2 separate regions of the Homo sapiens genome follow, and region 2 is linked to region 1. A link means that fine-mapping ties the variant in region 1 to the expression of a gene that starts in the linked region. Tissue or cell type: blood mononuclear cells. Region 1 holds a variant in brackets; the other region holds the start of a gene. All regions are shown on one strand. Distances are between the middles of the regions.

What was found.
Region 2: it holds the start of STON1, and the variant in region 1 is fine-mapped to the expression of STON1 in blood mononuclear cells (TOPMed, PIP 0.95).

Annotation. Positions count from the first base shown.
Region 1 is chr2:48,481,079-48,486,078 of GRCh38, forward strand. The region is part of intron 13 of PPP1R21 (protein phosphatase 1 regulatory subunit 21); the gene reads left to right. Among named protein-coding and RNA genes, the nearest start is that of PPP1R21, 43 kb to the left of the region's middle. The variant C/T (reference allele first, on the strand shown) is at 2,322.
Region 2 is chr2:48,527,082-48,532,611 of GRCh38, forward strand. STON1 (stonin 1) reads left to right here and starts at 3,073. Exons shown (of 4, transcript NM_006873.4): 1 at 3,073-3,135. It overlaps STON1-GTF2A1L (STON1-GTF2A1L readthrough), which reads left to right and starts at 2,844. Exons shown (of 11, transcript NM_001198593.2): 1 at 2,844-2,907. RefSeq lists an enhancer at 3,066-3,613 and a silencer at 3,205-3,404.

The DNA of each region.
Region 1 (5,000 bases):
CCTGGGTTCAAGTGATTCTTCTGCCTCAGCCTCCCAAGTAGCTGGGATTACAGGTACACACCACCATGCCTGGCTAATTTTTGTATTTTTAGTAGAGATGGGGTTTCGCCATGTTGGCCAGGCTGGTCTTGAACTCCTGACATCAGGTGACCCACCTGCCGTGGCCTCCCAAAGTGCTGGGACTACAGGCGTGAGCCACTGGGCCTGGCCCCAATTATAAGGAACTTTGAAAGTCACTGTACTTACAGAATTAGCCTTGGTTTCAGAAATCACAACTTGGATAGGCAGTATGGGTGGCAGTTAACAATATTCAACTCCAGTCCTGCAGAATTTAGTTTGGTCTATAGAAAAATCCAAGAGATGGTGCTTTTTTCCTGTGAGGCTTTTGGTTTGAGGAGCTAAGACTTAGTCGTAGTCCTCTCTTCCAGAACTTTACTTAACGTAGAACCAGTTTGAAACCACAAGTACCTCTGTGGCTACAAGTTTTTTAGTTTTGTTTTAAAATTTTTCCTCTGCTGGCTGGGTGCAATAGCTGACGCTTATAATCCCAGCATTTTGGGAAGCTGAGTGGGAAGATCACTTGAGCCCAAGAATTTGAGACTAGCCTGGGCAACATAGGGAGACCCTGTCTCTACAAAATGAAACAATAAAATAAAAAAAAAATAAATTTTCTTATGCTAATACAGGTTGAGCATTCTTAATACGGTAATCTGAAATCCAAAATGCTTCAAAATCTTAAGCTTTTCAAGTGCCATCATGACACCATAAGTGGAAAATTCCGCACTTGCCCTCACGTGACATGATAAAGTTGCAGTCAAAACTTAGTTTCATGCACAAAATTATTAAAAGTATCGTACAAAATTACCTTCAGGCTATATGTATAAGGTATATATGAAACATAAATGAATTTCTTATTTAGACTTGGATCCTGTCCCCAAGATACCTTCTTATGTATATGCGAATATTCCAAAATCTGAAGAAATCTGAAGTCCAAAACACTGCTGGTCCTAAGCTTTTTGGATAAGGGATTCTTAATCTATTGGTTGATAGGTTGGTCTCAGTGTAAACAGAGGGATTTATAAAAATATGTATCCTACATGGAATTAAAACAGGAGTGACTCAATTATTTAACAAGTGGCATTTTGTTTTGTAAAAGAGGAGTATATGTAAAGTCACCTCCAAATGTTAAAGGAGCTGAGAAACCAAAGAAGGAGGCAGACAAATCCACTTTGTTGGTATAGGGTGATTTATTGGGGTATCTTATAGACAGAAGAATGGTCTTGGGGCAGTCATAAGACGGGAAGGTCTTAGTACTGCAACCTCCCAGACCCAGAGCTTATATCTTGAGGGAAAAGTACATGTGCTCTGGAAGGAATGTGTAAGTGGGTATAGCATCACAGCCTATGATTTTTTATAACAGTATCAAGGGTTGTTTTGAAGGAAACTTATTGTGAATACATGTTTTTATATAAAGAGTAATATATCATCTAGACATTTTGGAGGTATTCCCAGATTCAGGGTCAGCCAGAAGTTACATGGCAGATTAGCATTTAAAATAAAGACACTGTTTTTTTTTTTTTTTTTTAGGATGTCTACTTTATTCTAAAGTGACTATAGTCTGTAGTTGTAATTATGAAAATATATAGACCAACGTTTCCCAAAGTTTAGTGTGTATACACATCATCAGATGACTTTTTTTTCCCCTCAACTTTTAAGTTCAGGGGTAAATGTGCAGGATGTGCAGGTTTGTTACATAGTTAAATGTGTGCCGTAGTGATTAGCTGCACAGATCATCCCATCAACTAGATAGTAAGCCCAGCATCCATTTGCCATTCTTCCTGATGCTATCCCTCCTCCCATCCCCCACCCTCCATCAGGCTCCAGTGTGTCTTGTTCCTTGGCATGTGTCCATGTGTTCTCATCATTCAGCTTCCATTGACAAGTGAGAACATGCAGTATTTGATTTTCTGTTTCTGCGTTAGTTTGCTGAAGATAATGGCTTCTGGCTCCATCCATGTACCTGCAAAGGACATGATCTCGTTCCTTTTTATGGCTGCATAGTGTTCTATGACGTATACGTACTACATTTTCTATAAAATAAAGATACTTTTTTTTCCTTTTTTTTTTTTTTTTTTTTTTTTGAGACAAGTCTCACTCTGTCACCCAGGCTGGAGTGCAGTGCAACCTTTCCCTCCCAGGTTCAAGCGATTCTCCTGCCTCAGCCTCCTGAGTAGCTGGGACTACAGGTGTGCGTCACCATGCCGGCTAATTTTTTTGTATTTTAAATAGAGACAGGGTTTCGCCATGTTGGCCAGGCTGGT[C/T]TCGAACTCCTGACCTCAAGTGATCCGCCTGCCTCGGCCTCTCAAAGTTTTGGGATTATAGGCGTGAGCCACTGCACCTGGCCCAATGTCAAAATCCTAAAATTCACAGGAAACCATAAAAGGGGCCTGAATAGCCAAAGCAAACAGCACAAAGCATAAAGCTAGAGGCATCACGTTAACTGACTTGTACTGCTTTATAAGCTCATTTAGCAAAGTAGTGCACATAGTATTTTACCCTTCTCTACCCTGTTCCTTGTAATGCACAATGAGAAACAGAACAGAGTACACATTGTTCCAACCCAAGTGCTGGGATTACAAGCGTGAGGTACCGCGCCTGGCCAAGAGTGTCTTTATTTTAAATGCTAATCCACCATGTAACTTCTGACTAACCCTGAGTCTGGGAATGCCTCCAAAATGTCAATTTAGTGTATTACTCTTTCTTATTTTTAATTTTTTAAATTTCTTTTTTATAGAGGTGGGGTCCTTCTATATTTCCCAGGCTGGTCTCAAACTCCTGGACTCAAGTGATCCTTCTGCTTCGGTCTCCCAAAGTGCTGGGATTACATGCATGAACTACCGTGCCCAGCCTAATGTATTACTCTTTATATAGGAATACCTATTCACTGTAAGATTCCTTCAAAACAAACTTTGACGCCATAACAAAAATCATAGGCTGTGACTCCTGTAGCCACCCACACATTCCTTTCAGAACACGCATACTTTTTCCCCAAGATATAAGCCCTGCGTTTGGGGGTTTGCCATGCAGAGATCTGTTTTGCAGCCACCCAAGACCATGCTTGTGTCTGTAAGTTCCTCCTAATAAATCATCCTATACCAATAAACTGGATTTGCCTGCTTCCTTCTTTGATTTCTTGGCTCCTTCAGCATTTGGGGGTCGTGTTGCAAATACAGCCCTTTCAAGGAGCATATTCTAAGTGAGAATTGTTTGATCTTTAGTCTCAGAGGTCTGAAGTTGGTAGACTCGTGGGAAACATAAAAGGAAAAATAAATCTATGGTCTAAGTCACATGATTCTTTTGTACATTTTGGAGTTAAAATTTAATGTCAAGAAACACTCTAAATAATTAAAATCTTTGGACTAAATAAAGAATAAACTTTTTTTTTTTTTTTTTTTCTGGACTGATTCTTGCTCTGTTGCCCAGGCTGGACTGCAGTGGCATGATCTTGGCTCACTGCAACCTCCCACTCTTGGGTTTAAGCAATTCTTATGCCTCTAGCACCTGAGTAGCTGGGATTACAGGCACATGCCACTACACCCAGCAATTTTTGTATTTTTAGTAGACACGGGGTTTTGCCATGTTGGCCAGGCTGGTCTTGAACTCCTGGCCTCCAGTGATCTGCCCACGTCGGTCTCCCAAAGTGCTAGATTACAGGCATGAGCCACTGCATCCTGCCAAGAGTAAACATTTTGATTGTGAGAATGACTATAATCAAGCTACAATAGCATTGTTCTTAGTATTGTACTTTTTTCATGAGTACCTCAATTACCATCAACCAAGATTGCTTACCAACCAAATTGTATTATTATAACATTGTATATACTTCCAGTGAAATATTGAATAAAACTGTCTGTGATGTGTAGAAAGAAAATGTCTGTTAGGGATGAGCAATTCAGTATACAAAAAGCATTCAGTACTTACAGACTGTTGGTGGGAATGTAAATTAGTTCAACCCCTATGGAAAGCAGTATGGAGATTTCTCTCATTTTTAGAGTTCTGAAAATAGAATTACCATTCGACCCAGCAATACCCACTACTGGGTATTAACAATCCCACTACTATGTTCACCATTTGGGTGATGGGCTCAATGGAAGCCCAAACCCCAGTATTACACAATATGCCCGCATAACAAACCTGCACATAAACTCCCTGCCTCTAAAATAAAATGTAAAAAAAAAAACAAAAAGCATTCAGCATCCTAATTGAATTTTTATACACTTGGACATCTTATGACTATGTTGAGCATAATCATTTCTTTTCAAAAATATATTGAATGTAATAGTAATTTGCCAATTGGTTGGTTCCTTTTCTGTGACAACTGTACCATAGTAATATGTTAACAGTAGGAAAAATTGGCTAAAGGGTGTAATGAAACTCCATACCTTTTCTATAAGTCTAAAACTATCCTAAATCAAAGACGTATTTATTACAAGTGTATATAAATATAGGAATATATTAATAATTTTTAAATTCCCTAGTTTTAAAATGTTAGTGAAAATAATCTCATTCATGGACCATAGTAATTTTGAGTTAAAACATCATGATCACTTCAGGTTAAATCTCAAATACTATTTCTTTTCAAATAGTCTTATTTCCTCCATTAATTATCTATAGTCTAAAACAATCAACAAAATTTCTTGATTCTAAATTAATGAAATTGTTTGTACAGAATTGCTATAAAAATTTTCATGTTTTGTGATTGACATATATATAGTTGTATATATTAACTAATATATACAATTGTATATACTAACTAATATATACAATTGTATATACTAACTAATATATACAATTGTATATACTATATATAATTGTATTATATATAGTTTTATATATTATATTAATATATACAATTATATATAATATAATTAATACATATGTGTATATATGTATACCTCTTCTATGCTTTCCTAACCACAGGCCTTTATTGTACTATTCTT
Region 2 (5,530 bases), 46 kb after region 1:
GAGTTCAGGTGATTCTCCTGCCTCAGCCTCCTGAGTAGCTGGTATTACAGGCGCCCACCACCACGCCCTGCTAATTTTCATATTTTTAGTAGAGATGGGGTTTCACCATGTTGACCAGGCTGGTCTTGAACTCCTGACCTCAGGTGATCTGCCTGTCTCAGTCTCCCAAAGTGCTGGGATTACAGGCATGAGCCACAGTGCCCAGCCAAAAAGCTGTAGTTTGAATGAGTGTTATAATGTAAACAGAGATTTGCTGTTGCCAAGTTTTTAGAGAGGAATGTTCCTACGAAGCATTTAGTTCTCAGTGTGTCCCTCCCCTTGGATGTATATTAAATGATCCTGACAGCTTCAGCTGACATGAGTTTTGAGGAATTCCAAGCTAATCTATTAGGTCATATCTACAGATACTTTGGGGATCTCTTGTTAAACAGTTGGGAAGTTCTAAATATTTCCATGAAAAAACTGCCAGGAAAGAGAAATCTGCTAATAAAAAGGAGAATGACATAGTTTGAGGGTCTACTTATTGTAAAGCAAGAGAAAGAACAGTAACTGGAGTAAAATGAGCTCACAGCTGTGATGAACGGCTGTGGTGGCTTAGCTATTGAGGCCAGGCTAAGCTGTTTACCACCAGATTTTGATACAAAGGGACACTACCAGAAAGGATCCTTTGGAAATACATGGTGGAGTTGCAAGAAATAAATCTTCATTCATGAAACTGGCAACCTTTGGGGCAATGCTGAATCACACAGAGGGGGAAGGCCTGTCCTTTGCAAAAGACAAAATGGTTTTCAACCAACTGTATTAGTCTTTAGAAAGTTATGGGCATCCTTGCTTTGCAGAAGTGTCAGAGTTTCCAAAAGAGATTTCTTTCACCAGGTGGCTACCCACTAATAAAGGCCATACTGCTTCTTTCAAAGATGACAAAGTTTAAAAGGTGCATACAGAACTCTGTAAATGCAATGATGATTACTGTTTGTCAAATGTGTCGTTGCTTCCTGCATGAGTCCTGTCTCCAGTTAGCTGTGGCAGTTTCTGAGATGAGCTGGCCTCTGTGGAAGACCCACTGGTGAAAGGTGGGCTGGATACAGGACCAAAAAGGTTCAATTTGGGGGTTCAATTTGGGGACCCCAAAATGCCTGCGGTCAAAGCATGAGGACAACAAAGAGTTGCCCCTTCTCTTTTTCTTCCGTTCCTCCTCCTCCTGCTTCCTGTGTCCTTCTTGCTCCACTTCTCTCAGCTCCTTACCAGAAGCCTGACTTAGGGGTCCAGTACCTGTCTGTTTCCATGGAACAATCTCTGACAAGTTAACCAGCCAGTCAGTTGACTTCCTATTCCCTAGGCTCTCCTCTTCCCTAGGCAAGTTGCCCTTCCTCAACTCTTAACCATTACTGGAAGGTAGCTGGAGGAAATGAGAAGCTGAGGAGAAACCAGTGCCTTTTTCTGTGTTTAGGATATATTAAGCATAAGCACAATTAGTAGTTTTATCTGAGAATAAAAGTATCCTAAATAGATCCTGGCTGTGTGATTTCAGGCGCTCGAGGAGTGCCCTCCTGGAACGTCAGTTTCCTTCCTCAAAGCCCCGAGGGCAGGTTCTTAACACTGGCTGGAGGTCAAATAGGGTACTGACTATATTTCCATTTCACCAGCGAACTCCAAGGTCAAAAACAAGGCTACACCTGACAGAACATTTAAAAAAGAATTACACTGCTGTGCAAATACAAAGAAGTGTCCACTGATTTTCACCAACCCTGGGTGCACTGCCTATGAGTTAGCCCAGCTCCTCAAGGAAATTTACGATTAAAAAATAATTCATTGCCTTTCCACCTTCCAGCATAGTACTTCAAGTTGAGATGCTCACCGGGGCCTCCTAACCCCTCTCTTTGGATGCAACCCCTTTCTTCCTAGGTGGTCCATCCTACAGGACTGTTAAACCAATATTTCTTATTTGCCATTTTGAATCCTCAAGGATTCACTGAGTGCCTACTCTACACCTTCGCTTGAAAACTTTCAGAGATTTCCTGTATTCTGCTTCATGCCCAGCTCCACCTTCCCATCTAAACATTGCCCACTTACCCTAAGCCTTCCAGTCTTGCCAACCTCCAAAGCACCATGCCATGGGGCCTAAAATGCCCTCTTCTCTCCCCTCTGAGCCTGTTCAAACTCAGCTCAGTCTCTCGTCCTGGGTTTTGGTGTCTCTCCAGGGTAAAGGGGTGGGGAGGGTGCCTTCATTCTGACTGGCTCCCAGTGAGGCAGCCCCCCTTGAGGAAGAGGCTGAGATGCCAAGTGACTTGCCTGGAGTCATTTGCCAGCAGGCGATGGAATAGGGACTACGAGACACCCTGCAGCCTCTCCTGGGAGGACAACGCCCCTTCTCCCTCTCCATGCACTCTTGAGGCAGCAAAGAGGAGGCATCTGGACGCGTTTACCTCCTCCCCACCCCCACAGCTTGGCCCTCACTAAACTATCTTGTGTCCTTCCTCCTGCTATGATTGATTCGCCCAGGAAGGTGGGGCTTCATCTTTACCTTTCAAATATAATTCTTTAGTTCTCCTAATTACAAGGTGGGGGGTGGGGGGTGGGGGTGGGGTGAGGCGGGGGGTACAAAACAAAACAAAACTCCATGAAGCAACTTAGAAAGCACGACCGCAAAGGCCCTCCATCATCCCCACCCAGAGGTGAGGACAAGGTCTGGGGGTGCTGGGTGGCTTCAGACCTTCCACGGGTCCAAGCTATCTGCTTCAAGAGGGCATCGAAAGGTAACTCATAGACTTACCGCCCCCGCCCCCCGACTTTTGCAGGAGGGAGCGCTCTCCCCTCCTCTGGGAGGCTGGAGACTCGGGGACAGAAGATGCGCTGGAGGGAAGAGAACGGAGCGTCGGACACCAGAAAAACTTTGGGGGATTCGGGGTGAGAAAGAAGGCGTGAAGAGAGAAGGGAGGCTCAGCAGGGGAGGAGGGGCGGGGGCGGGGGCGGGAGCGGGAGGAGTCACTGCGCCGCGGCCGCCCCTCCCCGCCCTCCACTCGGCGGCCCCGGGTCTTCCTCCCCCTCCTCCTCCCCCTCCTCCTCCCCCTCCTCTTCCTCCGCCTCCTGGTGTGGCTGGCTGCGGCCAGAATCGGAGCCCCAACCGCGCTGCCGGTGAGTGACCAGCCCCAGGGGACAGAGACGGGAGGCCTGGGACCCCCCCTCTCCAGGGTGGGGCCTCCCGCCGTGTCTGGGAAAGTTTGCGGGCGCCCCGGGACGCGGGCATCTCCAGGGCCGCTCGGCGCCTCCCCATCTCCCCGCGCCCGCCCTGGCCGCCCCCAGGGGCGCCCTGGGGCCCGCAGAGGGATGGCCTCCCGGCAGGGACTCCTCGGCTCCCCTCTGTTCTGAGACTGCTGCTGGGACCGGGGTCCGACTCTAAAGAGAAAACTCAAACAGCAAAAAAAGGAATATCGACTCAGTTCCGAGGGCGGGGGCCGGGGCTCGTTCTCACCCGCGCGCGGCCCCTCGACCTCTCGGACCCGGGCCACCAGCTCTGCGCCCCTCACGCCTCCCTCGGGGTCTCTGTGTCTCTCTCCCGCTCCCGGACTCCCTCCTCCTTCTGACTGCTGTTATTTGGGCTGTTGTCCCTCCCCGCTCCCTGGTACCTCAGCTCGGACCTTAGCCTGTGCCTGCAGCCCGGAGTCCCCTCCTGCCCTGGAAGGCAAGGAGCCAGGCCACGGGGCCACAGCCGCGGGGGCCACCACACTGGCCCAAATATTTCCTGCAGGTATGACCATTCACTGGGTATTGGGGTTGGGTCCCTTGGACCCACAAACTGAACCTCGTGGGTACAGGGAAAAATTAAAATATATTCCTCCTTAGGATTGTACTGCTTCTGTTGGTTTGGCATCTTTTTATTTTTAACCCTTCTAACTGTGCTTTCTTCGAATAATAATGATACTTCATGTAATTAGCGTTTCTAATATCTAAAGACAGAAGAAGGAAGAAAATAAACGGAAGAGAGAGAATGCTTGCTAAAAATACTCATTTTTGACTTCAGTCCACACTCGACTGTTTTCCTGGGAGATAGAAGTTCAGTGTAGCTTGTTTTCAGACTAACCGCAAACACGATTACAGCCTCCTCCAGGCTAGAAGTTTTAATTTGCCTGACATGCAGCACACTGTTTGTTGGTATTCCCAGCCTGGCATTCCCGTCTGCATAGCTCTAGTCTCCCTCCCAACTCCCCCACCCCCACTTTCTTTCTCATAAAAGGGAGCTGTGAAAACAAGGCAATGGGAGAGGCTCAAACGAGCTGGACCACATAATAAAAACAGCCCTACTTATTTTAATCCTGAGGCTATGGACTCCCCTGGACTCTGATTGGGTGGAAGAATTGTTTAGTTCATTTGTGTGGTTTTTCTGTCAGTAGTTATTATGGTTGAATCAGTGTTTCCATGACAGTCTTGCTTCTGTGGGCACGATGGGGAGCCTGTTAATTCTCGGATGGGTCTGGACAGATCAAGTCTGGAGTCTGGAGAGATTTTTCAGGGCTTGACCTGGGCTGATATTGCAAACCTCTGCACACTCACTCAGAACCAGAGCAGCCGGGAGCAGCCTGAGCTGGGGTTTTCTTCCACATGATCTGGGAAGAAAAAGCTCTACCAAGGAGCGAACTGTGTGAGCATGGTTGCTGGGGGATGTTGAATGTTTTACGTTTTTAGGAAGAACACACTTCTCAAAACTTTAGCCATTCCTGTTTCCATACAAACAATAAATGTGGTTGTAACAAATGTAGTAGATCAGATTCTGAACAACCCCTTAAAAAACAGGTCCAAGTATTGAACCATTTGGAAATAAAGATTTTATTTTATTTGAATTCTACTGGAAATAAAAGAGTTTATGTTAAAAAGGATGTAATTCACTTCTCTCCACTGATGCAGTTTGACAGTTCCCCATTGGTATGAATCAGTTAGGTTTTATTGTGGTCTCAAAACATCATTAAGGCAGGGCACAACATCATTAAGGCAGGGCACGGGGTTCATGCCTATAATCCCAGCATTTTGGGAGGCCGGGGCGGGCAGATCACTTGAGGTCAGGAGTTCGAGACCAGCCTGGCCAACCTGATGAAACCCCGTCTCTATTAAAAATACAAAAGCTAGCTGGGCCAGGTGGCGGGAACCTGTAATTCCCAGCTACTTGGGAGGTTGAGGCGGAAGAATCGTTTGAACCTGGGAGGCGGAGGTTGCAGTGAGCCGAGATTACACCACTGCACTCCATCCTGGGCGACACAGCAAGACTCTGTCTAAATAAATAAATAAATAAATAAATAAATAAATAAATAAATAATTGATAGGCAAGTGTTGTGACTGTGACTTCCATTCAAAAAGTAAGTCCAAAAAAAAAAAAAAACAACAAAAGTAAGTCCATAAATTCTGAGCTTGTTTGGCCCTGTTGCTTAGAAAAACAATGTACTGTGCTCAGATAAAAATCTTCAGTCTCTTCCTCTTCCTGAGAATTTTTAATAGTGCATTTAATATCCTGTAAGTCAACCTTATACTGTTTACAGAA